2 separate regions of the Homo sapiens genome follow, and region 1 is linked to region 2. The links come from fine-mapping of genetic effects on gene expression. A gene starts in region 2. The other region holds a variant in brackets. All regions are shown on one strand. Distances are from middle to middle. Region 1 has its middle 25 kb from the start of PCNX1. Region 2 holds the start of PCNX1 (pecanex 1).

Region 1 (2,910 bases), 24 kb before region 2:
TGTCAGGAAAGTCTTCCCATATGAGATACTTCTAGCAATTGAGTCTAGTCTAGAGGAACAGGCAGTTATTCTCTAAATGGTCTCTAAGAAGAGCTGGGGGCCTTAAAAACAAGGGACGTAGCAGTAATCTTTTTTATAGGCTGTGAATTGCTGTGGAACCTATAGCTTCAAACCTATTTGTTTTCCATGAACTCTATAATGATGTCATGGTCTATGCCTTCTTCATGTACAAACATCATACAGTTAACCCACCACCATGATAGCATGTACTTTCTGTTGTCGTGTTGTTTCCTAGTAAGGTGATTGATTTGCATTGCTTCAACCGGGCTCCTCTGATTGATCATTTTCTAAACAATGGATGCATTTACAGATGGTTGCCAGGTTCAGCAGAGGAGGCTGTAGCCATCAAATAGATAAAGTAGGCTCACCACATTCTGGAATTGAAACCGTGATCTTGGTTACATCAGAAGGTGCTCTAACCAATTGAACAAACCAGGCCTCGATGAAGCAACTGAGAGCTGGGGGATTCTTATGCAGAACAGAGCATTCATACTTCCGCTTCCATATGTACCACATATGTGTTCCTCTCAACTGGTTTTGTACATTTCCATTGCCTTAAATGTATTCACATAGCACTCTTTAAATACTCGAAGTATAATGAAGAAAAGAGAAGGAACTGAAATGGTTCCATTCCATTTCTCACTAGGAAGTTGATTCTGTGCACTCTATTTCTGACTATTTTCTATCAGCCTATCACTGTGGGATGTAGGAGGGAGGAACAGGACACAAAATGTGGCATAATTAAAAAAAGATGAAGAAGAAAATTAAAATCATTAACCATTAGTAATCATTTTTAATGTGCATCATTTTTAAAATTCGAGAATAACCCAAGGAGGTAGGCATAATGTTTAGACATGATTTACCAGTGAAAAGAAGCTTAGAGAAATGAAGTAACGGCTGGAAAGTCACAGCTAGAACTCAAAGTGAGAATTCCCACCCAAGAAATCTAACTCCAGATTCTACACTCCTAATCTCCGCTATGTTGCTTTCCTGAAATGAGGAAAGAATAAGAAAGGAGAAAATTAGTGACAGGAAAGAGAGAGCTGAATAAGAGGGGACAAAGAAAGGAGGAAGGAAATCAAGCAGTTTCTACACTCTGGAAAATAACGGAGCAGAATTAACAGAAGAGAACTACTTTCCTCAATGCTCATTCTACTGTTAAAAAAAAAATAAGCCAGGCAGTGCAGCACACGCCTATAATCCCAGTGACTAAGGAGGCTGATGTAGGAGGATTGCTTGAGCCCAGGAGTTTGAAGCTAACCTGGGCAACAGAGCAAGACCTTGTCTCTAAAAAAAATTTTTTTTAAGTAGCTGCATTGTCTTGTTTTTCTAACTTTGTACAGTGCTTAGAGTAACACTATCTAAACAGCATGTGTTCCATAAACCCTGTTGACTAACCGCTGGATTTGCACAAGAAACACCGGAAGACTCTTAGGCAAGAGATATATTGTAAGATCCGTGACAATGAGATCTCTTGGATGACATGTTTTTCATTGTTTACTGCGTGTCTAAAATGAGAAGGTCCTAAGAGCCAACCTTTCATTGGAGTGGCCCCCATAAAACTGTCTGCTGTGTAAGGGGTGTTGGAGTGACTCTCCATCACAGGTTCTACTGCAGCTCTAGGGTGGGTCCTGAGTGATGTGAACCCCACCCCCATCCCCGTTGCTAGTGAATGGGTCTGGGGTAGGCAGGCCAAGGCCAATTG[G/T]GACCAATGAGTCATAAAGAGTTTTCTAAACACTTCCGGAAAATATGCTTTCTTACCCTTAAGAAAGAGTCACAGGAAGTTAGTAGGAGGTGAAAAGGGAAGCAATTAACCCAGCAACTACTGGAAGCCTTCCAAAACCCAGGGATCTTTCCCCAGAATGAAGTCAGCATTGGGGATAGCACAGCAGAGAGATGCAAAGAGCCACTGGATCCACCAGTCCTGAATCCTACCCAGCCTTTGACATCCTGCATTGGAGCCAATACATTTCTTTATGATAAAAGCTAGTTTGAGGTTGAGTCAGGATTTCTGTCCCATATTTTAAAGTATCCTACTGATGCAGCCTGGTAAACATAAAACATGGTAAACACATGTGGCCTGATTTTATTGGCAGCATGGTTAACTGGTTCAAGCTATGGTTCAAGCTATTCTTTCCCTTCTGTGATTATGACCATACGCTCTCATGAAAGGTGAAGCCTTTCTCCTGCCATGGCTACCTGGCTAAAAAAGCTCAGCCAGAGTCTCAATTCCTATAACCTCCTTCCCATCCATCCATTCATCCATCCATCTATCCATCCATCCATCCATCCATCCATCCATCCATCCAGCTGATGGATTAATAAATTTATATCAAGCACTTACTCTGAGCAAGGCATTTTGCTAGGCACTGTAAGGCCATCAAAAAGGAAAAAATAGGCCGGGCGCGGTGGCTCACGCTTATAATCCCACCACTTTGGGAGGCCGAGGTGGGTGGATCACCTGAGGTCAGGAGCTCGAGACAAGCCTGACCAATATGGTGAAACCCCGTCTCTACTAAAAATACAAAAATTAGCTGGGCTTGGTGCCGTGCACCTGTAGTCCCAGCTATTCGGGAGGCTGGGGCAGGAGAATTGCTTGAACCCAGGAGGCAGTGAGCCGAGATTGTGCCACTGCACTCCAGCCTGGCGACAGAGTGACACTCTGTCTCAAAAAAGAAAAAAGAAAAAAAAAATCAGATGCTCTCTGTTCTCAGAGACCTTATAGTGTAAAAGGGGAGAAAAAATATGTATACAATTAACTACGGCAAAATGTAGAAAACTGTTAGGTGTCACTAGATACAGTGCCACAGTAGATCAATGAAAGGAAGAGACCATTTCCAGCTGGGAAGG
Region 2 (2,910 bases):
GAAACAAATGAAAACTTGACAATAGCTGGTATCTATGACACCAGCTTCAAGGCCACTATTTTAATTGTAAAATTGCATTATTTAATCATAATTTTGCTTTTAGATATACAAATATATTTTAAAGTATATTTTGTCCAGTGTTTACTCACAGCTCTCAATTTCAAGGTATCTTACTGGAACTCAGTGGCTTTGTGGTTATAAGGACATAAACAAATCAAGGCTAGGGATGGTGTGGTGTTCTACAGTGGTAAGCTACATTAGAATCCTCCGGAGGACTTGTTAAAACAGATTGCTGGGTACCACCCCACAGAGTGTCTATAGAATGATGCCCTAAGAATTTGCACTTTGACGAAAACTGGTCATGTATTTAAGCTGGTCACAGATAACCAGAAGGTGCTGAACTGTTCTTAATCAATTCAAACTTTTACCTGAAATGGATAATAAGGTGGAGAGCCTTGAGAAATGAACTTCCAAAGTTCAGTGCATGCAGTTAGCATGACTGCTGGTTTTAGAGTTCTCAACCACTTATTGCTTATGAGCAATAAGTGGCCATAAGCATTTGGCCAATCACTTACTTGAGTTTACAGGTTTTCTCATCCATAAAATAACAATAGCTGCTATGCTGCCCTCAAAGGGTTGTCCTGAGGTCTGAATGGAATGGGTGTGATAGTGTCTGAGCAACTATAAAGTGGTATGGCACTGGGAGGTATTGTAACGGTTTTTCATTACTCTTCTTAAAATATCACCAGTTTCCTTTGGCTCTTGTTTCCCTCATTAATTATAGCAACTGTAATCTGGGAATACACAGTACTTTTATTGCCATAAAAGCCAAACTTCAATAAACTCAAATTTCAAACTTTTCTATAAAATTTTATTCAGTGAGATCAGACACGCCTTATAAACATTACACAGAGCCAAGAATGATTCCGTTTTTACAGCTATAAAAAGAGATCTACAAGACCCTATTGTAATTTGGGGTGGCGTCACGGTTAATCTTTTTCAACCCTGTTTAGATTGGCCCATTAATAAAAATGGCTGCTAGTTACAGCACATTTAAAAATACAATCACCGCGTACAAATGGTAACCTGTCCACTCCATACTTCCATGTCCTGTGCCGCTTCTATTAACTTGTCTTTGGAAGTAGTAAATTCTCCCAGTCTGGACGTGGCTATTTTTTCTCACACACGGGCCAACACAGTTCTTGCTCAACTTGGGTGCGTTTATGACTTTTCAACAGTGTCATCAGCCGTACCTAACTCTTCCAGGCCTTCAGTATCTCAGGTGTTAGCTTCAGTTGTTCCTAGGTCTTTCACAAATATCATAAATGACAGGCAGGACGCTTTTCTGGAGTCAAGATCTGTTAGTTTCGGAGTCAGAAAGACCCCGTTTAGAGACTCGTAGGCGAACTTGCCAGGGGGCCTACCAGGGGCAGAATGGGGTCCTCCGGACCAGCCAGCCGCGTCTCAGCCACCTCCGCAGCCCCCGGGGCCCTGAACCCCGGCCGCGTTGACGCGCGCTTCTCCCGGACGTCGGCAGGAGGCGCCCGCGGCGGACCAGGCGCGGCGCGCACCGTAGCCGGCCCAGGGGGCGGAGGGAGCGGAGAGGAGGAGCTGGAGGGGGCGCGGCTTCCTCTCGGTCGCTCCCTGGCGCCGGGCCTCTTTCTCTGCCTGGCCCAGGGCTGGCGGCCGGCGGGGGTCGCGGCGGCGGCAGTGGGGGCGCTGGCGGGCCGCGGGTGGCGGGGGCCGGGCCGCGGCTCCGGGTGTTAGGAGACAAGATGGCGGCGGCTCTCAGAAGGCCGGTCTCCTCCTCTCCGCCGTCCTCCGCCCCGCCGCTCGCCGCCTCCTCCTCTCGGGTCTCCTCCTCCTCGTTTGCTGCCTCCTCCTCCTCCTGCAGCAGCACCAGCGACCGCCGAAGCGCCGGCTCGCTCACCCGGAGCTCCGGAGGTGGATAGACGGGGCAGCTGCAGGCTCCGGCGACCGAGGCCGAGCTGGGGCCGGGGCGGGGACGGCGGCGGCGGCGGCGGCGACGGCGGCGGCGCCGGGTGGGGATGGGGTCGCAGACGCTGCAGATCCTCCGACAGGGGGTGTGGGCCGCGCTCAGCGGGGGCTGGTACTACGACCCGCACCAGGCCACCTTCGTGAACGCGCTGCACCTCTACCTGTGGCTCTTTCTGCTGGGCCTGCCCTTCACCCTCTACATGGTGAGTGTGGGGGCGGGGAGCGGGTGGCTCCTTCCCCGCGAGCCGGTGGGGAGATGCTGGGGTCGCGCCCTCTTCCTCTTCCACGGGGTCTCGTCCCCCGGGGGCCGCCACCCTCTCGGTGTGAGGCTCCCCGCCCCCACTGCGTGCTCCCACTCCTCTCTTCGGGGCTTTCCTGGTTTCGGAGGTGACACGAGCAACGAGCCCACGGCAACCCGCGCCGGCCGCCCCCGCCCGCTCACTGGGAAGCGGCAGCGTCCTAGGCCCCTTCTCGGGGTTCCCTCCTGCGGCCACTCGGCTAGGCCGTCCCCGCCGGGGCCCCCCGCCCGTGGGGCTGTGTGGCAGGCGCCGAGCGCTCTGCGGCTTTAGGGGACGCCGCATCCATCCTTGGCACGCTGGGTTCCTCGGGCGCCCGGCATCCGGCACTGCCCGCCCCCGCCGCGGCCCTCGTCCGGGGCTCCCGGGAGAGGCCGCCCGCCGCCTCGCCGCTAATCCGCGTGCGGAGCCCCGGGAGCGCGGGGGACCGTGCGGCTCTGCTCCGAGTGTGTGTGGGGGTCGTCCGGGCTCGTCCTCCAGGGGTCCTGGGTGGTGGCTGAAAACCCGGCTCGGAACCCTCCTGCCTCTAAAAAACCGTTGTTGTGCTTCGCAGCGGTTCTTCTCTGTTCGGCCCCGTGGCCGGTGGCCGTGGTGCTTCCTGGCCTCCCTGGGGGGA

The links.
Region 1: its variant is fine-mapped to the expression of PCNX1 in whole blood (TOPMed, PIP 0.99).

The regions. Positions count from the first base shown.
Region 1 is chr14:70,881,495-70,884,404 of GRCh38, forward strand. No RefSeq gene overlaps it. Among named protein-coding and RNA genes, the nearest start is that of PCNX1, 25 kb to the right of the region's middle. The variant G/T (reference allele first, on the strand shown) is at 1,766.
Region 2 is chr14:70,905,803-70,908,712 of GRCh38, forward strand. It overlaps PCNX1 (pecanex 1), which reads left to right and starts at 1,657. Exons shown (of 36, transcript NM_014982.3): 1 at 1,657-2,201. The coding sequence starts at 2,049. RefSeq lists silencers at 1,560-1,749, 1,970-2,309, 2,470-2,809.